3 separate regions of the Homo sapiens genome follow, and all the other regions are linked to region 1. The links come from fine-mapping of genetic effects on gene expression. A gene starts in region 1. Each other region holds a variant in brackets. All regions are shown on one strand. Distances are from middle to middle. Region 1 holds the start of APOC1 (apolipoprotein C1). Region 2 has its middle 7.0 kb from the start of APOC4. Region 3 holds the start of APOC4 (apolipoprotein C4).

What was found.
Region 2: its variant is fine-mapped to the expression of APOC1 in testis (GTEx, PIP above 0.99). The same link has a PIP of 0.9 or more in ovary, skeletal muscle and tibial nerve.
Region 3: its variant is fine-mapped to the expression of APOC1 in lung (TOPMed, PIP above 0.99).

Annotation. Positions count from the first base shown.
Region 1 is chr19:44,910,836-44,918,659 of GRCh38, reverse strand. APOC1 (apolipoprotein C1) reads right to left here and starts at 4,052. Exons shown (of 4, transcript NM_001645.5): 1 at 3,927-4,052; 2 at 3,711-3,788; 3 at 2,335-2,470. The coding sequence starts at 3,768. RefSeq lists enhancers at 2,981-3,738, 3,739-4,498, 5,257-6,016 and a promoter at 3,913-5,039.
Region 2 is chr19:44,931,279-44,939,102 of GRCh38, reverse strand. It overlaps the pseudogene APOC1P1. Among named protein-coding and RNA genes, the nearest start is that of APOC4, 7.0 kb to the left of the region's middle. The variant G/C (reference allele first, on the strand shown) is at 3,197.
Region 3 is chr19:44,939,883-44,946,019 of GRCh38, reverse strand. It overlaps APOC4 (apolipoprotein C4), which reads right to left and starts at 3,783. Exons shown (of 3, transcript NM_001646.3): 1 at 3,667-3,783; 2 at 1,130-1,271; 3 at 524-880. The coding sequence starts at 3,742. The coding sequence ends at 715. APOC4-APOC2 (APOC4-APOC2 readthrough (NMD candidate)) reads right to left here and starts at 3,782. Exons shown (of 6, transcript NR_037932.1): 1 at 3,667-3,782; 2 at 1,130-1,271; 3 at 1-880. The variant C/T (reference allele first, on the strand shown) is at 2,056.

The sequences.
Region 1 (7,824 bases):
CACGCCTGTAATCCCAGCACTTTGGGAGGCCGAGGCGGGTGGATCACCAGGTCAGGAGATCGAGACCATGCTGGCTAAGAATACAAAAAATTCTACTAAGTAAATTCTACATTCTACTAAGAATACAAAAAATTAGCTGGCGTGGTGGCAGGTGCCTGTAGTCCCAGCTACTCGGGAGGGTGAGGCAGGAGAATGGCATGAACCCGGGAGGCGGAACTTGCAGTGAGCCGAGATCAGGCCACTGCAATCCAGCCTGGGTGACAGAGCGAGACTCCGTCTCAAAAAAAAAAATTTAAAAAGAAAAAAAAAAAAAAAAAAAAAAGAAACACTTCACCCTGGCCTGGCTTTCAAGGCCTGCCATCTCTTGCTACCAATGCCTTCCTTTTTTTTTTGAGATGGAGTTTCGCTCTGTCACCTGGACTGGAGTGCAATGGCACTGTCTCGGCTCACTGCAACCTCTGCCTCCCAGGTTCAAGCCATTCTCCTGCCTCAGCCTCCCGAGTAGCTGGGACTACAGGTGCCTGCCACCACACCCAGCTAATTTTTGTATTTTTAGTACAGAGAGGGTTTCATTATGTTGAGCAGGCTAGTCTCGAACTCCTGACCTCGTGATCCGCCTGCTCAGCCTCCCACAGTGCTGGGATTACTGGCGTGAGCCACCGCGCCAGGAGTTTTTTTTCTTTTTTGGCATGGAGTCTCGCCTTGTCGCCCAGGCTGGAGTGCAGTGGCATGATCTCGGCTCACTGCAACCTCCGCCTCCCGGGTTCAAGTGATTCTCCTGCCTCAGGCTCCCGAGTAGCTAGGACTACAGGAATGCACCACCACGCCCGGCTAATTTTGTATTTTTAGTAGAGACAGGGTTTCTCCATGTTAGGCTGGTCTCGAACTCCTGACCTCAGGTGATCTGCTTGCCTTGGCCTCCCAAAGTGCTGGGATTACAGGTGTGAGCCATTGTGCCTGGCCTCCAAACGATCTTTCTAAGTTTATGCCTGGCTCTATTTTCCCTCCCTCCCTCCCTTCCTTCCTCCCTCCCTCCCTGTCTTTCTTTTCTCTTTTCTTCTCTTTTCTTTTCTTTTTTTGTTGAGACAGGGTCTCATTCTGTTACCCAGGCTGGAATGCAGTGGCACAAACATGGCGCACTGCAGCCTAGATCTCCTGGGCTCAAGCAATCCTCTCGCCTCAGCCTCCCAAGGAGCTGGGACTACAGGCATGGGCCACCATGCCCAGCTAATTTTTTTTGCATTTCTATTAGGGACGGGGTTCTCGCACTCCTGACCTCAAGTGATCCACCCACCTCGGCCTTCCAAAGTGGTGGGGTTACAGGTGTGAGCCACCGTGCTCGGCACGTTCTTCACTGTTTTATTCCCCACATTGAAACAGTTTCCAGCACTTAGCAGATGCTCAGTAAATATTTTTGAAAGAACGAATGACTCTCTAACTTGCCAAAGGGGGCAAGGGTGGGTTTCATGATATACTGAGCATCTACATGTACCAGACACCCTGTAGGCCTGCTCCTTTACTTCCCTGTAGAACCACCAGTTTATAGGAGAGGAAACTGAGGCTCACAGTAATGCCCCTCTGTCAAGATCACACAGGAAGGGGTGCTACTCCAGCCTGGGGACCCAGGTCTGGCCAAGCTTGGGGCCTTCATTTTCATTACCTCACAAAACCATCTTTTTTTTTTTTTTTTTAAATGGAGACAGGATCTCGCCATGTTGGTCAGGCTGGTCTCGAACTCCTGGGCTCAAGCAATCCTCCCATCTCAGCCTCCCATAGTGCTGGAATTACAGGTGTGAGCCACCATACCTGGGCAAGACCATCTTGTTTTTTTTTTTTTTTTTTTTTTTTTTGAGACAGAGTCTCCTTCTGTCACCCAGGCTGGCACAATGTTGGCTCACTGTAACTCCCACCTTCCTGGTTCAAGCAATTCCCCTGCCTCAGCCTCCCGACTAGCTGGGATTACAGGTGCACGCCACCATGCCTGCCTAATTTTTTTGTATTTTTAGTAGAGACAAGGTTTCACCATGTTGGTCAGACTGGTCTCGAACTCCTGACCTCAGGCAATCAGCCCACCTCGGCCTCCCTAAGTGCTGGGATTGCAAGCATGAGCCACCGTGCCCAGCCCAAGACCATCTTTTAAAATATGGCCTGGATGGGAGTCAGGGAAACTGTCCTTGAAGTCTGAGCACCTTGAGATCTAGCTGTGTGACCAGAGGGATGTTGTCAGCCTCTCCAGGACTTGTTTTTTTTTCAATCTGTTCATCTTGGACCATCTGCCAGGGCTCCACCCAAAAACACACCCCAGCTCTCCCGTGCCCTGGGAAGGGTTCTAACCGCATCTTGGCAGAAAGTTCACTCTGTTTGATGCGGCTGATGAGTTCCCGAGCCTTGTCCTCCAGTGTGTTTCCAAACTCCTTCAGCTTATCCAAGGCACTGGAGACGTCTGGGGTCCCCTGGGCTGGGGCTGGGCCTGCCAGGAAGATGGGCAGGGGTTCAAAATTTGTTTTTTTTTTTTTTTTTTTGGAGATGGAGTCTTGCTCTGTAGCCCAAGCTGGAGTGCAGTGGCATGATCTCGGCCTACTGCAACCACCACCTCCCGGGTTCAAGCAGTTCTCCTGCCTCAGCCTCCCAAGTAGCTGGGATTACAGGTGTGCACCACCACACCCAGCTATTTTTGTTTTGTTTTGTTTTGAGACGGAGTCTTGCTGTGTCAGCCAGGCTGGAGTGCAGTGGTATGATCTCGGCTCACTGCAACCTCCGCCTCCCGGGTTCAAGTGATTCTCCTGCCTCAGCCTCCCGAGTAGCTGGGCCTACAGGCGCGTGCCTCCACACCTGGCTAATTTTTTTGTATTTTTAGTAGAGACGAAGTTTCACCATGTTGGCCAGGCTGGTTTCGAACTCCTGACCTCAAGTGATCTGCCCGCCTCGGCCTCCCAAAGTGCTGGGATTACAGGCATGAGCCACCCTGCCCGGCCAAAAATTTGTTATTGGAACCCCCTTAGGTTGGGATACCGGGATGGATAGAGATCCTTGGGGATCATGTGGTTAGAATGGGGAGGAATGGCCGGACGCGGTGGCTCACGCCTGTAATCCCAGCACTTTGGGAGGTCGAGGCAGGCGGATCACAAAGTCAGGAGATCGAGACCACGGTGAAACCCTGTCTCTACTGAAAATACAAAAAATTAGCCGGGCGCGGTGGCGGGCGCCTGTAGTCCTGCTGAGGCAGGAGAATGGCGTGAACCAGGGAGGCGGAGCTTGCAGTGAGCCGAGATCGCGCCACTGCACTCCAGCCTCGGCGACAGAGCGAGACTCCGTCTCAAGAGAAAAAAAAAAAAAAAAAAAAAGAATGGGGAGGAATACTGGAGTGACCTGGTGGGGCTCAAGCTGCTGGGAATTGCCTTACTCAGCACTGACCTCTCCCAGAGCCCCCCACCCAGCTTACCCACTTTCAAGGCTGTCGAAGCAGGACAGCCAATCCCAGAGGTGTGGGCCTCAATACGTCATCGGTTGCTAGTGCTCTCCTGCGCAGATTTGGCGCCTGCGGGACTGAGCCTGGGAGAACCTGGAGACCCACCCGACCACGATGAGGCAACCACGACCCAGAAGGGGCCCCGGAGCTCTCAGAGGTCCTCTAAGCCGGGACCCCAGGCCTGTAGCCACCTTCACTCTTCCAAATCTCCAACTCCGCAATTCTCCCATCCCACTTTTACCTTCCAAGACGATCGACAGAACCACCACCAGGACCGGGAGCGACAGGAAGAGCCTCATGGCGAGGCCGGAGGGGCACTCTGGAGGCAGAGGCAGGGGTTCAGGGGATCAGTGGCACCCTCCTCCCTCCCTACCTCCCTCCCACGATCCCCTCATCTCCCTTTTTGAGTTTCTTGCAGAGTGTAGGCGGGTGTCCCTCCCAGGCACTCAGCACCAACCTGAATCCTTGCTGGAGGGCTTGGTTGGGAGGTCCTGTCCTGCCCGCAGGACCTTTATCAGGCTGGGGAGGGGGCGGGGCAGGTTGATGTTGATCTCCCTCCTCCTGAGCCTTCCCCTGACCGCCTGCCTCCCTCTGTCCACCCACGTTTTTCTCCTCTGCCCCTGTCCCGTGAGCGTTGGGGTCAGGTGGGGTCCCGGGCACTTCCCTTAGCCCCAAAGCCCCTCCCCGTTCAGCACTCTCACCTCTCAATCTTCCTGACTCTGTGGGGTCCTCAGACCACCTTAGTCCCTTTCCCCACTCAGAATGTAGCAGGAGGAGCCGCAGACAAAATTCCTCAGACGCTGAGTTAAGGAAGGGGTTTATTCGTTCGGGGAATGGGCAAGATTCCTGTCTCAAGAGCCGAGCTCCCCGAGTGAGCAATCCCTGTTCCTTTTAAGGGCTCACAACTCTAAGTGGGTGCACGTGAGAGGGTCGTGATCGATTGAACAAGCAGGGGATGCGTGACTGGGGGCTGCATGCACCGGTAATTAGATCGGAACAAAACAGAATAGGGATTTTCACAGTGCTTTTCTATACAATGTCTGTAATCTATAGATAACCTAACGGATTAGGTCAGGGGTCAATCTTTAACCACCAGGCCCAGGGTGTGGCGCGGGCTGTCTGCTTGTGGATTTCATTTCTGCCTTTTAGTTTTTACTTTTTCTTTCTTTGGAGGCAGAAATTGGGCATAAGACAATATGAGGGGTGGTCTCCTCCCTTAAGAAGACAGCCTTGTCCTGTCCCTGTGGCCATCTTCCCTCAGGGGTCTCCCAGTAATAACCCTGTGATCTCATCCCCCCCTCATTCACACCGTGTCCCTAGATCACCTCTTTCCCTCACTTCCCCTCTCTCAGCAAGCCTCCTCAGCCCCAACAACTTTTCCTTTATGTTGCTGGGTCTCCCAGTTGGCCCGGCGCTCCTACCCTGCGTGCCACCTCCAATTTATTCCAGACCAGCCCTTGAAGCACCCCAGACCACCGTGATATTCTCTGGGCTCTTAACTTCATGGTTCTCAGTCTCCCTTTTTTGGGAGGGGAACGGGTCGCCTTAGCTGGATGACACTGCAAAAACCTCACCTGCATTAGCCAGGCATGGTGGCTCATGCCTGTAATCCCAGCACTTTGGGAAGCTGAAGAGGGAGGATCACTTGAGCCTGGGAGTTCGAGACCAGCCTGGGCAATATAGGGAGACCTCATCTCTACAAAAAAGTTCAAAAATTAGCCGAGCGTGGTGGCGCATGCCTGTAGTCCCAGCTACTCAAGAGGCTGAGGTAGGAAGATTGCTTGAGCCCAGGAGTTCGAGGCTGCAGTGAGCTGTGATTGTGCCACTGCACTCCAGCCTGGTGGGACAGAGACCCCATCTCAAAAAATTAAAACCCTCAGCTGCAAAGCTCTGCGTGTATGTCCCTTCTTCCCTTCCACCGGGCCTCACCCCCTTTGGCTGGCTACCTCCCCCAAACACTCTATCTGCTTTTATTCACCCTCTGACGCCCCTCCTGGCACCAAGCCTGCTTCCCACCATCACTACATCCGTCCCCCAAGGCTGGAGTCCAATGCCTTCCCCACCAGCTGCCTTTGACCGCCAGTGACCCTGGCAGCTGGTGGGGAGGGTGTCCTCCGCCTAGCCTCAGACTCTAGGTTGGCTGGCCTTGTGCCCCCGCAACCACGTGTCAGCCTGGCAGTAGGGGGATGGTTGTGAAAAGGACAGCATAGACAAGACCCTGGCAGGATTGCAACATCCCTCTGGCCAGCTCAGAGCTTCCAGTCCCTGTCAGCCCCAGGGGCCCCCCTACTTCCCCAACTAAGCCCAGCACCCCCCAAACATCCACCCAGATGTCTGCTTCCCAGACCCCACAAGAATAGCATAACAATGCTCCTGCTTTTCCAACCTCATCCTCCCCTCTGCTATAGGGGTTTCTCTTTAATAGATGGGGAAACTGTCGCATAACCAAGAACATCCAGTAGGGCTCAGCGAGGGGCAAAGATGGGGGCTACTGGCTGGTTGCAGTGGCTCACGCCTGTATTCCCAGAACTTTGGGAGGCCAAGGTGGGCGGAGCACTTGAGGTCAGGAGTTCGAGACCTGCCTGGCCAACATGGTGAAACTCCGTCTCTACCAAAAATTCAAAAATTATCCAGGCATGGTGGTGTGCACCTGTGGTCCCAGCTACTCAGGAGGCTGAGGCAGGAGAGTCGTTTGAACCCATGAGGTGGAGGTTGCAGTGAGCCAAGATTGTGCCACTGCACTCCAGCTTGGGTGACAGAGTGAGACTCCGTCTCAAAAACATAAAAAAAATTTAAAAAAGGGGGCTCTTTGTCCTTCTCCTTCCCAGGCTCCAGGATGTCTCTGTGGATGGTTGCTGGGTCAGCTCCTGTCCCATACGACTCCCTGCCAGCCTTTGTTCTGGAACCTCCTTCCCATCCTTGTCCCACCTCTGGATCTGACTGGGGATGTGGTGAGATAGGGCACCCTGTCTGCTTAGACATCTTCATAGGTTGGTGGGGCGTGGTGGCTCACACCTGTAATCCAACTACTTTGGGAAGCTTTGGCAGGAGGATCTGCTTGAGCCCAAGAGTTTGAGATCAGCCTGGGCAACATAGTAAGACCCCATCTCTACAAAAAAGTTTAAAATATGGCCAGGCATGGTGGCTCACTCCTGTAATCCCAGTGCTTTGGGAGGCCGAGGCGGGTGGATCACCTGATGTCAGGAGTTTGAGACCAACCTGACCACCGTGGTGAAACCTCGTTTCTACTAAAAATACAAAAATTAGCCTGGTGTGGTGGTGTGCGCCTGTAATTCTAGCTACTCAGGAGGCTGAGGCAGGAGAATTGCTTGAACCCGGGGGGCAGAGGTTGCGGTGAGCCAAGATGGTGCCACTGCACTCCAGCCTGGGCGACAGAGTGAGACTCCATCTCAAAAAAGAAAGAATTAGCCAGGCATGGTGGTGGGTGCCTGTGGCCCCAGCTACTCAGGAGGTTGAGGCAGGAGGGTTGCTTGAGTTGGAGGCTGCAGTGATTGATGATCGTGCTACTGCACTCCAGCGTGGTCGACTGAGCAAGGCACTGTCTCAAAAAAAAAAAAAAATTCTTAAAGGTGAGAACTCAAGGTTCGATTCTTCAGGTGGGAGATGTGGCTGATGCTGATTCTCTCATTGACATCTGGGGAAACTGAGGCTCTGAGAGGGTGCTGCTCCAGCTCCTGGACATACGGTGAATCAGCAGCAGGCCCAGCAGACCAGGCCCCCTGCCTGTGAGCACACTGACCCTTCCCCTCCTCACTCAGCCCTGGTGAGTCATCTCCAGGGGAGGGGTGCTGCCTCCACGTGGGTGATCAGAGCAGTGCCAGGGAAAGCACCAAGTTCAGGGTGTGCAGGAGCCAAGATGGGCAGAGGGACAAGCAGATGTTGCAGCTGGCCCAGGAGATACAAGCTCAAGTCTCAGCCTGTCCCCCGTTGGTGGGAACCCTCCTCCCCGTCTCTGAGAACTGAGGGGGTGGGAGGAGAAGAGAGTGCCGGCGGCTCCTGGGCTTCCATCCAAGCTTCCCCTCTCTGAGCGCCAGCTCTCGTCTCAGCATGGGCCTGGTGCAGACTCCGACAGAAGAGCCGCTCCCTTCTCTTCCCAGCCTGGATTCAGCACCCAGTAGGCTTGTTGGGAAACATGAGGGGTAGACATCACAACTGGAGGAAAGGATGGAGAATGAGGGATGGTCCGGGTGAGGTGGCTCATGCCTGTAATCCCAGCACTTTGGGAGGGTGAGGCAGGCAGATTACTTGAGGTCAGGAGTTCGAGACCTGCCTGGCCAACAATGCCGAAGCCTTGTCTCTACCAAAAATACAAAAATTAGTCGGGTGTGGTGGGA
Region 2 (7,824 bases), 20 kb before region 1:
GTAGAAACACAGTTTTGCCAAGTTGCCCAGACTGGTCTTGAACTCCTGGGTTCAAGTAATCCTCCCACCTCAACCTCCCAGAGTGTTGAGATTACAGGCGTGAGCCACCACACCCGGCCATGTTGTTTATATTTTACCACAATTATAAAAAAACAAAAACAGCCAGGTACTGTGGCAGGGGCTTGTAGCCCCAGCTACTCAGAAAGCTGTGGTAGAAGGATTCCTTGAGCCCAGGAGTTTGAGAGTCCAGCCTGGGCAACATAGTAAGACCCCGTCTCTTAAAAAAAAAAAAAAAAAGCTGGGCACGGTGGCTCACGCCTGTAATCCCATCACTTTGGGAGGCCAAGGCGGGCGGATCACGAGGTCAGGAGTTCGAGACCAGCCTGACCAACATGGTGAAACCCCCGTCTCTACTAAAAATACCAAAAAAAAAAAAAAAGTTAGCTGGGCATCGTGGTGGGCACCTGTAATCTCAGCTACTCAGGAGGCTGAGGCAGGAGAATTGCTTGAACCTGGAAGGTGGAGGTTGCAGTGAGCCGAGATCGCGCCACTGCACTCCAGCCTGGGCGACAGTGCGAGACTCAGTCTCAAAAAAAAAAAAAAAAACAGGCCGGGCGCGGTGGCTCACGCCTGTAATCCCAGCACTTTGGGAGGCCGAGGCGGGCGGATCACGAGGTCAGGAGATCGAGACCATCCCGGCTAAAACGGTGAAACCCCGTCTCTACTAAAAATACAAAAAAATTAGCCGGTCATAGTGGCGGGCGCCTGTAGTCCCAGCTACTTGGGAGGCTGAGGCAGGAGAATGGCGTGAACCCGGGAGGCGGAGCTTGCAGTGAGCCGAGATCCCGCCACTGCACTCCAGCCTGGGCGACAAAGCGAGACTCCGTCTCAAAAAAAAAAAAAAAAAACAACAAAAAACAAGGGCCAGCATGGTGGCTCGTGCCTGTAATCCCTGGTGGCAGGATCACCTGAGCCCAGGAGTTAAGACACTAATCTGGGCAACATAGGGAGACCTCATCTCTACTAAAAATAAAAAAAAAAAATTTAGCTAGGCGTGGTGGCATGCCCCTGTAGTCCCAGCTACTCAGGAGGCCGAGGTGGGAGGATTGTTTGAGTCTAGGAGTTCAGGGCTACAGTGAGCTATGATTGTACCATTGCATTACAGCCTGGGTGACGCTGTCTCCACAACAAACAAAAGCCCAAAATAAAAAACAAAAACAAACCTACTGTGTGTTGTGTTATGATTGGTGTGGGGTTCAGAGCCTGACTCTACCTGTTGCTTCTTTTCCTTTCTTTCCTTCCCTCCCTCCCTTCTTTGTTTTTTGAGATGGAGTCTTGCTCTATTGCCCATGTTGGAGTGCAGTGGCGCGATCTCGGCTCACTGCAACCTCCATCTCCTGGGTTCAAGCAATTCTCCTACCTGAGCCTCCCGAGTAGCTGGGACTACAGGCGCCTGCCACCACACCCAGCTAATTTTTGCATTTTTAGTATAGACAGGGTTTCACCACGTTGGCCAGGCTGGTCTTGAACTCCTGACCTCAGGCAATCCACACGCCTTGGCCTCCCAAAGTGCTGGGATTACAGGTGTAAGCCACTGCTCCTGGCCTGTTTTTTTTTCTTTTTGAGATGGAGTCTTGCTCAGTCACCCAGGCTGGAGTGCAGTGACGTGATCTCAGCTCACTGCAACCTCTGTCTCCCGGGTTCAAGCAATTCTTCTGCCTCAGCCTCCTGAGTAGCTGGGATTACAGGCGTCCGCCACCACGCCCAGCTAATTTTTGTATTTTTAGTAGAGACGGGGTTTCACCATGTTGGCCAGGCTGGTTACGAACCCCTGACCTCAAGTGATCATCCCGCCTCAGCCTCCGAAAGTGCTGGGATTATAGGCATGAGCCACCGCGCGTGGCTGACTCTACATCTTTCTAGCGGTATGACCTGGTACAAGTTGCTTTACCTGTGTGGGCCTGTTTCTTCATCCATGAATGGGAGTCATGGACTATCTACCTCATAGGGTTGCCAGGGAGAGTAAAGATCGTGCACAGAAAATGCCGCATAGGTGCCCCGTCAACGCCAGCTACTGTTTAATTCGTGCGCGCTTCCCCAGCACACACTGTGTGGCAGGAACCATGGCAGGGCTTTTAGATGATTACTTTACTTAATTGCGGTGGGGCATGGTGGCTCATGCCTGTAATCACAGCACTTTGGGAGGCTGACACAGGCAGATCACTTGAGGTCAGGAGTTCGAGATCAGCCTGGCCAATATAGTGAAACTCTGTCTCCACTAAAAATACAAAAATTAGCCAGGCATGGTTGTGGGCGCCTGTAATCCCAGCTACTTGGGAGCCTGAGGCAGGAGAATTGCTTGAACCCGGGAGGCAGAAGTTGCAGAGAGCCAAGATGGCTCAATGCACTCTAGCCTGGGTGACAGAGCTTTCCATCTCAAAAAAAAAAAAAGGTGGGGGAGCTGGGCGTGGTGGCTCATGCCTGTAATCCCAGCACTTTGGGAGGCCGAGGCAGGTGGATCACAAGGTCAAGAGATTGAGACCATCCTGGCCAACATGGTGAAACCCCATCTCTACTAAAAATGCAAAAATTAGCTGGGTGTGGTGGCGGGCGCCTGTAGTCCTAGCTACTCAGAGGCTGAGGCAGGAGAATCGCTTGAACCCGGGAGGTGGAGTTGGCAGTGAGCCGAGATCACGCCACTGCGCTCCAGCCTGGTGACAGAGTGAGACTCCATCTCAAAAAAAAAAAAAAAAAAAGAAAAAGAAAAACAAAAAAACTACTTACTTATTTGCCACAAAAACCCTATCAGGTGGGCATCTTCATCATTTCCATTGTACAGATGGAGAAACAAGCCTCAGGGTGGGGGCGCAGCCACTTACTGACGACTCCTCAACCAGCAAGTGGTGGTTTTGAACCGGGACCCTCTCACACTACCTAACCAGGCCAGGACAACCTCTGCCCCTCTCCACCAAAATCCAAGAGATCAAGGGGATGTTGGAAGTGGTATGGGCCCTGAGAGGTCTCTGACCTCTGCCGCAGCTCCAAGGTCAGCACGCAGGGAGGGCTATGTGTTTGCTGTTTGCTGCTTGCAATGTTTGCCCATATCAGGGACGGGAACAGGCTGAAGGTCATTCAGGGTGGACTTCAGAGGCAGCACACAAACAGCTGCTGGAGGATAGGAACTAAGAGGTCGGAA[G/C]GGGGCAGGGCGGGCCCAAAAACAGAGCCTGCAACTCTGTTCTCTAAGTCACCAAGCCCCAAAACCACTCTCAAATCTTTCTCTCTACCCCTGGATCCTTACCCTGGTCTGAATCCCATCCCCTCATCCCCCGAAACCCTGCACCCTCCTCCCTGCTAATCTTCTGGTGTCTCTAGCCACTCCCCTCCTGGCTGGATACTCTGGGTGATTGCAGGGAAGGCTGGGGTAAAAAAGGGTTTGAAATGTCCCTCCTAATGCATGTTGAAAAATTGAGTTATAATTCACATTCCATAAAATTTACCCTTTTTTCTTTTTCTTTTTTTTTTTTTTTTTTTTTGAGATGGAGTCTCACTCTGTTGCCCAGGCTGGAGTGCAGTGGGGCAATCTCAGCTCACTGTAGCCTCTGCCCCGCAGGTTCAAGAAATTCTCCCGCCTCAGCGTCCCAAGTAGCTGAGACTACAGGCACTTGCCACCACGCCTGGCTAATTTTTTAATTTTTCGTAAAGATGGAGTTTCACCATGTTGGTCAGGTTGGTTTCGAACTCTTGAGCTCAAGTGATCTGCCCGCCTCGGACTCCCAAAGTGCTGGGATTACAGGCGTGAGCCACCGCGTCCTGCTAAATTTACCCTTTTAAAGTGTACAGTTCAATGGTTTTTCCTATATTGGCAAGGTTGCACAATCACCACTATCTAATTTGGAACATGGCTCACTGCAGCCTCAACCTCCCTGATTCAAAGCCATCCTCCTACCTCAGCCTCCCAAGTGGCTGGAACCACAAGTGTGCACCACCATGCCCAGCTAATTTTTTTTAGGAGGGATGGGGTCTTGCTATGTTGCCCAGGCTGGTCTTGAACCTCTGAGCTGAAGCAATCCTCCCATCTTGGCCTCTCAAAGGTTAGGATTACAGGAGTGTGCCACTATGTCTGGCAGGGGATGATTTTGGAAGAGAACTGGAGGAAGTGAGGAGGGAGCCAGGCAGATATCTGGACCCCTGGGGAAGAACATTCCAGGCAAGAGGAACAGTAACTGCAAGGGCCCTGAGGTGGGAACCTGCCCAGTACATTGGAGGAATAGCAAGGAGTTGCTTGTGAGTGATGGAGAGAGAGGGATGAGGCGATCGTGAACCGGGTAGTGTCCTGTTTGTAGGCCTTTGGTAAGTTCTTCTGGGTTTGCTCTGAGAGAATCAGGAGAGTTCTGAGCAGAGGAAGAGCATAATCTGACTTGAGGCTGGGCACGGTGGCTCATGCCTGTAACCCCAGCACTTTGGGAGGCCGAGGAGGGTAGATCGCTAGAGCTGGGCAGTTTGAGACCAGCCTGGGCAACATGGTGAAACCCCGTCTCTACTACAAATACAAAAATTAGCTGGGTGTGGTGACACACACACACCTGTAGTCCCAGCTAATTGGGAGGCTGAGCAGGAGAATCGCTTGAACCTGGGAGGCAGAGGTTGCAGTGGACTGAGATGGTGCCACTGTACTCCAGCCTGGGCAACAGAGTGAGACTCCGCCTCAAAAAACAAAAAAACAAAAAATCTGACTTGAGTTCTAACAGGCTGCTGAGTGAGAAGAAAGGAGAGTATAGGAGTTTGGAGGGTTGATTTTGGGGGAGAAGGGAATGCATTAACCCCAGAGAGTAATATTTATAATTTATTTATTCTCTTTCTTTCTTCTTTTTTTGGTAGAGACGGTGTCTCACCATGTTACCCAGGCTGGTCTTGAACTCCTGACCTCAACTGATCCTCCCATCTCAGCCTTCCAAAGTGCTGGGATTACAGGCATAAGACACTATGCCCAGGTTCAGGATTTCCTTTTTTTTTTTTTTTTTTCTCCTGAGACACAGTCTCACTCTGTCATCCAGGCTGGAATGCATGGCGCAATATTGGCTCACTGCAAGCTCTGCCTCCCGGGTTCACGCCATTCTCCTGCCTCAGCCTCCCGAATAGCTGGGACTATAGGCGCCCGCCACCATGCCCAGCTAATTTTTTGTATTTTTAGTAGAGACAGTGTTTCACCATGTTAGCCAGGATGGTCTCGATCTCCTGACCTTGTGATCCACCTGCCTCGGCCTCCCAAAGTGCTGGGATTACAGGCGTGAGTCACTGCGCTCGGCCCAGGATTTCCTTTTATGTTTTGAGATGGAGTCTTGCTCTGACGCCCAGGCTGGAGTGCAGTGGCATGATCTCAGCTCACTGCAGTCTCTACCTCCTGGTTCAAGCTATTCTCACGCCTCAGCCTCCCAAGTAGCTGGGATTACAGGCACACGCCACCATGCCTGGCTAATGTTTGCATTTTTAGTAGAGATAGGGTTTCACCATGTTGGACAGGATAGTCTCCAACTCCTGGCCTCGAGTGATCCTCCTGCCTTGGCATCCCAAAGTGCTGGGATTACAGGTGGGAGCCACCGAGCCTGGCTTCAGGAGTTCCTTTTTTTATTTTTTGAGATGGAGTTTTGTTCTTGTCGCCCAGGCTGGAGTGCAACGGCACGATCTCTGCTCAGTGCAGCCTCCGCCTCCTGGGTTCCAGTGATTCTCCTGCCTCAGCCTCTTGAGTAGCTGGGTTTACAGGCACCCGCCACCATGCCTGGCTGATTTTTTTTGTATTTTTAGTAGATACGGGGTTTCACCATGTTGGCCAGGATGGTCTCCAACTCCTGGCCTCAAGTGATCCTCCTGCCTCGACCTCCGAAAGTGCTGGGATAACATGTGTGAGCCACAGAGCCCGGCCTCAGGGTTTCCTTTTTAAGGATGCTTTACATTCCATTGCACGTATAGACCACATTTCCTTGACCCATTCATCTGTTGATAAACATTTAGGTTGTTTCCATATCTTGGGTATTAAGCAGACCTGCAGTGAACATGGGAGGGCAGGTATCTCTTCAAGGTCCTGATTTCAATTCTTTTGAATAAATACCCAGAAATGAGATTGCAGGATCATTTGGTAGTTCTATTTTTAATGTTTTGAGGAAACCCCATACTGTTTTCCACAGTGGCTGCAGTGTTTGGTGTTCCCACTCGCATTGTAGGAGTCCCTTATATATTTTGAATATTAACCCCTTATTAGATATATGGCTTTCAAATATTGTTCTTATGCAATCTTAAGCTGGGCGCAGTGGCTCACACCTGTAGTCCCAACACTTTGGGATGCCAAGGCGGGCGGATCACTTGATGTCAGGAGTTCGAGACTAGCCTGGCCAACATGGTGAAACTCTGTCTCTACTAAAAATACAACAAAAGTAGCCAGGTGTGGTGGCACATGCCTGTAATCCCAGCTACTTAGGAGGCTAAGGCAAAAAAATCACTTGAATTTGGGAGGCAGAGGTTGCAGTGAGTGGAGATCGCATCATTGCACTTCAGCCTGGGTGACAGAGCCAGACTCCATCTCAAAAAAAATTTTTTTTTTACATAGGGTTGTTTTGCATGTGCATGTGGTTTAATTTTACGTAAGAGCTGGGCACAGTGGCTCACGCCTGTAATCCCACCACTTTGGGAGGCCAAGGCAGGAGGACTGCTTGAATCCAGGAGTTGGAGACCAGACTGGCCAGCACGATAAAATGCTGTCTCTACTAAAAATACAAAAATTAGCTGGGTGTGGTGGCACACACCTGTAATCCCAGATACTAGGGAGGCTAAGGCAGGAGAATCTGTTGAACCCAGGAGGCGGAGGTTGCAGTGAGCCGAGATCATGCCCCTGCACTCCAGCCTGGGGTACAGAGTGAGACTCTGTCTCAAGAAAAAAAAAAAAAGGCCAGGCGAGGTGGCTCATGCCTGTAATCCCTGCACTTTGGGAGGCCATGGCAGGCAGATCATGTGAAGTCAGGAGTTCAAGACCAGCCTGATCAACATGGAGAAACCTCGTCTCTACTAAAAATACAAAAATTAACCAGGCATGGTGGCACGCACCTGCAATCCCAGCTACTTGGGAGGCTGAGGCAGGAGACTCCCTTGAACCTGGGAGGCGGAGGTTGCAGTGAACTGAGATGGTGCCATTGTACTCCAGCCTGGGCAAGAGGAGCGAAACTCTGTTTCAAAACAAAACAAAACAAAACAAAAAACCTCAGCCCCTCATCTCGGGTAGACCACACTAGGAAAAGTGTAGCATAGTGACATTGCCTGGCTGAGGGTTCAATCTAGTTCCAGTTCTCCACTTCCTGGCTGTGTGACCTTATACAAGTAGCCTCACCTCTCTGGGCCTCAATGCCCTTATGGGATTATTAAGTCCCAGTTTGCAAGGTTCTTAGGAAGATTCTTTTGAGACCATAGAGTTAAAACATCCTTAGCACAGGGCAAGTAGATGGGGCATTGGAGGGCTTGTGAGGAGTCCGTAAGGTTCAGCCCCTGCCCTCTCCCACAGCCCCTACCCTCTCCGGCACCCCTGCCCCACAGTGAAGAAGCAGTCAGACAGAATTTTCTTTTCTTTTTTTTTTTTGACGCGGAGTCTGGCTCTTGTCACCCAGGCTGCAGTGCAGTGGCACGATCTCAGCTCACTGCAAGCTCCACCTCCCGGTTTCAAGCGATTCTCCTGCCTCAGCCTCCCGAATAGCTGGGACTACAGGCGCCTGCCACCACGCTTGGCTATTTTTTTTGTATTTTTAGTAGAGACGGGGTTTCACCGTGTTAGCCAGGATGGGC
Region 3 (6,137 bases), 28 kb before region 1:
TGGTTGAGACCCACTTCCGCTCCACAGCCACAACCCCCATCCTTTGTCTAGGCCAAAGTCCTGGCCAACAGAACTGCGGAGGGGGTGGGTGGGGACAGAAAGGGCAATGACGTCCCCCAAGGTCACGTCACAGGGAACCTTCTCTCAAGTGACAGGGAACCCTCACTCTGAGAATTCGCCTCCGACAGAGGCTGGGTTGGGGGCTGTGGAGGGGTTGGAGGTGCTGGGTGCCCACTGGGAATGGAGTCAGAGCTTGTAGGAGACAAGGGCGAAGCTCTCAGTGAGGGCCATCATGGGGACCTGCTGACTCCACCCACGCTCCTGCCCTCACCCTCCTGAAACTGACACGCCTTGAAGTCCCCCATTCTCCGCAAGCCCACAATAGGGTGTTATTCCTTGATACCCTTCCCGACCTCCCTACTCTTCCTTCCCCATCAGGTGTCACCTCTTCTACTCATTGATTCCTGGGAGGCAGTGGGGTGGGTTTTTTTCTGGCCACACTGGGGAAGGATCCAGACAGGGACACAGGTGAGACTTTATTTATTGGAGAAGTATGAACTTTTTTTTTTCTTTTTGTTTTACCCCCAAGAGATCTCGCTGTGTTGCCCAGGCTGGTCTCGAACTCCTGGGCTCAAGCCATCATCCTACCTCAGCCTCCTGAGTAGCTGGGACTACAGGCACCCGCCACAACCACACCTGGCTTTTATGAACATTTTAACCCTGGTCCTTGTCCCCACAGACAAGCCTGGGGCACAGGCTGTGGGTCTTCTTCAAGAGGCTGTCTTTGGATTCGAGGAACCAGGCCTTGGTGAGCGGACCCAGGTCCCTCAGGTGGTCGTCATAGTAGGTCTGCATGAAGCCCCGGAAGGTGCTCGGGCTCCTACAGGAGAGAGGACATCACAGTGGAGGCCCCAGCTCTCCCCAGGTGTTCTCTGCCCCATTTATCCGCTCCTCTCTGTGACCTAGGAGTTCCTGCTCTCAGCTCTAACCCTCCACTCCTCCCAGACCTAGGGGTCACAGCCCCACTCCCACCCTTTCCTCCTCCCTGAGACTCAGGGGTCCAGGCCCCAGCCCCTCCTCCCTCAGACCCAGGAGTCCCCTCCCACCACCCAGCCCAGCACACCCTCACCAGAACCATTGCCACCCGTCTCTGGTCCTGTTCACCACTGTCTCCAGCAGCTCCTTCATCCTGCCCCTCACCAGGCTCCAGCGACTCATCTTTAGCTTTGGTGGGGGGCTCAGGGTTCCTTCCTGGGCCTCTGGCTGGCATGCTAGGTGGAACCAGAGGGCAACTTGGGTAGGCTGGGACCCTAGAATCCCCTTCTCCCTTTCCCTCCATGCTCATCCTGTGTCGCTCCCGGTGGCCCAGGGGCAGCCCCCTGCCAGTCCTCTTGCCTCCTGCCTTTACCCTTATGTGTCCCCTGACCGCTAACCCCTCTTTAACCATCAGCCATCTCTTTTTTTTTTTCTTTTTTCTTTTTTTTTATGAGACAGAGTCAGTCTCTTGCTCTGTTGCCCAGGGTGGAGTGCAGTGTCATGATCTCGTCTCATTGCAACCTCCACCTCCTGGATTCAGGCAATTTTCCTGCCTCAGCCTCCCGAGTAGCAGGGATTACAGGCATCTGCCATCATGCCCGGCTAATTTTTGTATTTTTAGAAGAGATGGGGTTTTGCCATGTTGGGGCCTCGAACTCCTGACCTCAAGTGATCCACCCACCTCGGGCTCCCAAAATGCTGGGATTACAGATGTGAGCCACCCCGTCCGGCTGGGCCATCTCTTCACCTTGTGTCAGTAGTCCCTCCTGTCACCCTGTCTGCCTGTGGTTCCCCTCTAATGGCCTCTCTAATTGCCATCCTCTGATGCCTCCCTTCACCACCTGATTTTGCTGCCCAGGAACTACCCCCTTCTCCCTTCGTTCTCCTGTGACCCCCACCCTGTCTGAGCTACCTCTGTGGACAGTGGAGGGAGAGCAGGAGGTGACTTTCTGCCCCCAGGGGCAGACATTGGCTTAGCCTTGCTGTCAGTTCCTCTTTCCGGGCCAGACCTTCTACCCA[C/T]GCATCTGGACAAAGCCTCGCCTACAGAGACCAGCCGTCACGCGGGGGCCACATGTAGCTAGCTGTGTGCCTTGGCCGGTGACTTATCCTGTCTCCCCAGGACTGTTTCTCCTTTTGTAGAACGGGGTAATAATATCTACCTCAGGGTTATCGTGAGAATTAAGAGTTACTACATACGATGCACATGGAATGGTGCCTTGCACATTGTCTACATACGTGTTAAATTTTTTTTTTTTTTCAGACGGAGTCTCGCTCTGTCACCCAGGTTGGAATGCAGTGGCGCGATCTCGGCTCACTGCAACCTCTGCCTCCCGGGTTCAAGTGATTCTCCGGCCTCAGCCTCCCGAGTAGCTGGGACTACAGGCGCATGCCACCATGCATGGCTAATTTTTTGTATTTTTAGTAGAGATGGGTTTTTACCCATCTGTTAGCCAGGATGATCTCAAATCTCCTGACCTTGCGATCCACCCGCCTCGGCCTCCGAAAGTGCTGGGATTACAGGCATGAGCCACCGTGCCTGGCCCTGTATTAAAAATTTAAATTTCTACTGGATAATGCTGATCTAGAATATGATCCCATTTTAACATAAAGTACATGGCCGGGCGTGGTGGCTCATGCCTGTAATCCCAGCACTTTGGGAGGCCAAGGCGGGCGGATCACCTGAGGTCAGGATTTCAAGACCAGCCTGGGCAACATGGCAAAACCCTGTCTCTACCAAAAATATAAAAAAATTAGCCAGGCATTGGCCAGGCGCAGTGGCTCACGCCTATAATCCTAGCACTTTGGAAGGCCGAGGCAGGCGGATCACGAGGTCAGGATATGGAGACCATCCTGGCTAACACGGCGAAACCCCGTCTCTAGTAAAAATACAAAAAATTAGCCAGGCGTGGTGGTGGGCTCCTGTAGTCCCAGCTACTCGGGAGGCTGAGGCAGGAGAATGGCGTGAACCCGGGAGGCGGACGTTGCAGTGAGCCAAGATCACGCCACTGCACTCCAGCCTGGGTAACAGAGCGAGACTCCGTCTCAAAAAAAAAAAATTAGCCAGGCATGGTGGCGTGTGTCTGTAGTCCCAAATACTCTGAAGACTGAGGCAGGAGAATCCCTTGAAACGGGTAGGCGGATGATGCAGTGAGCCAAGATCGCACCACTGCTACCACTGCACTCCAGCCTGGGTGACAGAGTGAGACTCCGTCTCAAAAAAAAAAAAAAAAATGCATATGCAAAACACAGACGTACACACCAGCACACACTCACCCCCTCACACATGTCCACACACTCAAATATTTTGCACACACATACCCCACAGAGAGACAGGTGCACACAAATACACATATGCACACAGACATGCACTTTTTTACCACGACTGCATACTCCCACTTCCACGCACGCACGTGCACACACACAGATGATCCCAGTTTGTACCAATGTGACATTCACACTTCACTCTCAGCCACCGACACACACACTCCCCGACACGCACATGCATACGCACGCCATGAAACGCACACACTCCGTACTCATGTCTCACGTGGCTACAGAGCCACAGGACACACAGCCACACTCACACCCACCAGGTGTGGGCCCCACATCCCTCCACCCACTTCTTCTCACCCCCAATGCAGGCCAGGACCAGCACGCAGAGGCACAGGGCAGGCAGGGCCTGGAGCCTGTTTCTGAGGAGGGACATTTCTGGGGGTTCCGTGCCTCTGTCCCTCTGTGCTCAACTCTGCGGGCCGGGGGAGGGGAGGCTGCACAGAGCAGGGCCCTCCCCCGGCCACCTCCCCGCTTGGCAGAGACTTCAGAGAGCAGGGCCCAGGTGACAGTGGCAATCAGAGGTCATGCCTCTGTGGGCCTCCCTCCTTCTCACCCTCCCACACAGTGCCCTGAGAGAAGACAGAGGCTCTTGAGCCTCCTGCACTGAGGCAGGTTCAAATCCTGTCTCCACCTCCCATGACAGCCTCATTTGCTGGCCTCAGTTTCCTCCTCCATAAAGTGGGAGGCACAGTACATATTTCAGTATATTACTTGAACAAATACAAAGAAAGGCGCAGTGGCTCACGCCTGTAATCCCAGCACTTTGGGAGGCCGAGGTGGGCAGATCATATGAGGCCAGGAGTTTGAGACCAACCTGGCCAACATGGTGAAAAACCCTGTCCCTACTAAAAATACAAAAATTAGCCAGAAGTAGTGATGCGTGCCTGTAATCCCAGCTACTTGGGAGGCTGAGGCAGGAGAATGGCTTGAACCCGGGAAGTGAAGGCTGCAGTGAGCCGCGATCACACCACTGCACTCCAGCCTGGGTGACAGAGCAAGACTCTGTCTTGAAACAAAACAAAACAAAAAATGAAGAAAGCTCTTACCGTGGAGACTGGCAATATAGGTGCTCAAAGATCATTGCTGTTGGCCAGGCGCGGTGGCTCATGCCTGTAACCCCAACACTTTGGGAGGCCGAGGCAGGCGGATCACGAGGTCAGGAGATTGAGACCATCTTGGCTAACACGGTGAAACCCCATCTCTACTAAAAATATGAAAAATTAGCCAGGCGTGGTGGCAGGCGCCTGTAGTCCTAGCTACTCGGGAGGCTGAGGCAGGAGAATGGCGTGAACCTGGGAGGTGGAGCTTGCATTGAGCCGAGATCGCGCCACTGCAGTCCAGCCTGGGCGAAAGAGCAAGACTCCGTCTCAGAAAAAAAAAAAAGATCATTGCTGTTATTATTATCTTGTGTCTAATTTCTCCTAGTCACTGGGCTGCAGGGCCAGGCTTGTGGTAGGGCCTCAATAGGGCCCAAGGGTTGATGAGAGGAAATAGCAACACAGTCTCATGTCTCCAGCCTCTGTTTCTTCCTAGGTGGGCTCGAGCCCGATCACTTCCAAGCATTCCTTGAGTTCTCAATTCCAACTCTTTCTCCTCTGGGTGACTCTGGCTTCAGATGGACCTGGGCTTCGAATCCCTCACTTCTTCACCGTGTGACCTGGGCAAATACGTTTTCTTTTCTGGGGCTCAGTTTGTTCAACTGTAACACGGGGTTGATAGGGAGCACCTGCCTCCCAGTGTCCTCATGCAGGACGGCTGAGGCCTATGCAGGAGAGCTGCAGGTGCACATAGTAGGAGGTCATCAACATCAGGCCCAGGGCCAGGGCGGTGGCTCCCACCTGTAATCCCAGCACTTTGGGAGGCCGAGGCAGGCGGCTCACTTGAGGTCAGGAGTTCAAGACCAGCCTGGCCAACGTAGTGAAACCCCGTCTCTACTAAAAATACAAAAATTAGCCGGGTGTGGTGGAGCGAGACCTTGTCTCAAAAACAATAACAACAACAAAAACCAACAAAAAACCCACATCAGGCTCGGTCCCAGTGCCAGAAATAGAGCATTTTTCTCCTGAAGGACCCAGCTGCACCCCAGGGCACATGGCTCAGGGGACTATGGACTGGATTCTTTTTTTTTTTTTTGAGACAGAGTCTGGCTCTGTCGCCCAGGCTGGAGTGCTGTGGCGCGATCTCGGCTCACTGCAAGCTCCGCCTCCCAGGTTCACGCCATTCTCCTGCCTCAGCCTCCCGAGTAGCTGGGACTACAGGCACCCGCCACCACGCCCAGCTAATTTTTTGTATTTTTAGTAGAGACGGGGTTTCACCGTGTTAGCCAGGATGGTCTCGATCTCCTGACCTCGTGATCCGCCCGCCTCGGCCTCCCAAAGTGCTGGGATTACAGGCTTGAGCCACTGCGCCTGGCCTGGACTGGATTCTTTTGTCTACGCTTGCCAGACGAAATAGAGGAGGCCCAATTACATTTGAATTTCAAATCAACAGTGCATGACGTTTTAGTATAAATATGTCCCATGAAATATTTCAGAATTATACCAAAAAGTTTTTTTTGCTATTAATCTGAAATTCAAATGTAACTGAGCATCCTGTATTTTTACATGGCAAATCTGCAAACGCAACCTTGGCCACAACCTGAACAACTGTGCAGGACTGTCTTGACCCAGATGTCTGCCTTGGCAGAATCCTGTCCATCCCAGAGGCCCCAGCGTGAGCACAGTAGGTGCGCAACAGATGTCCCCTGGAATTCCTCTGTAGCAATCATC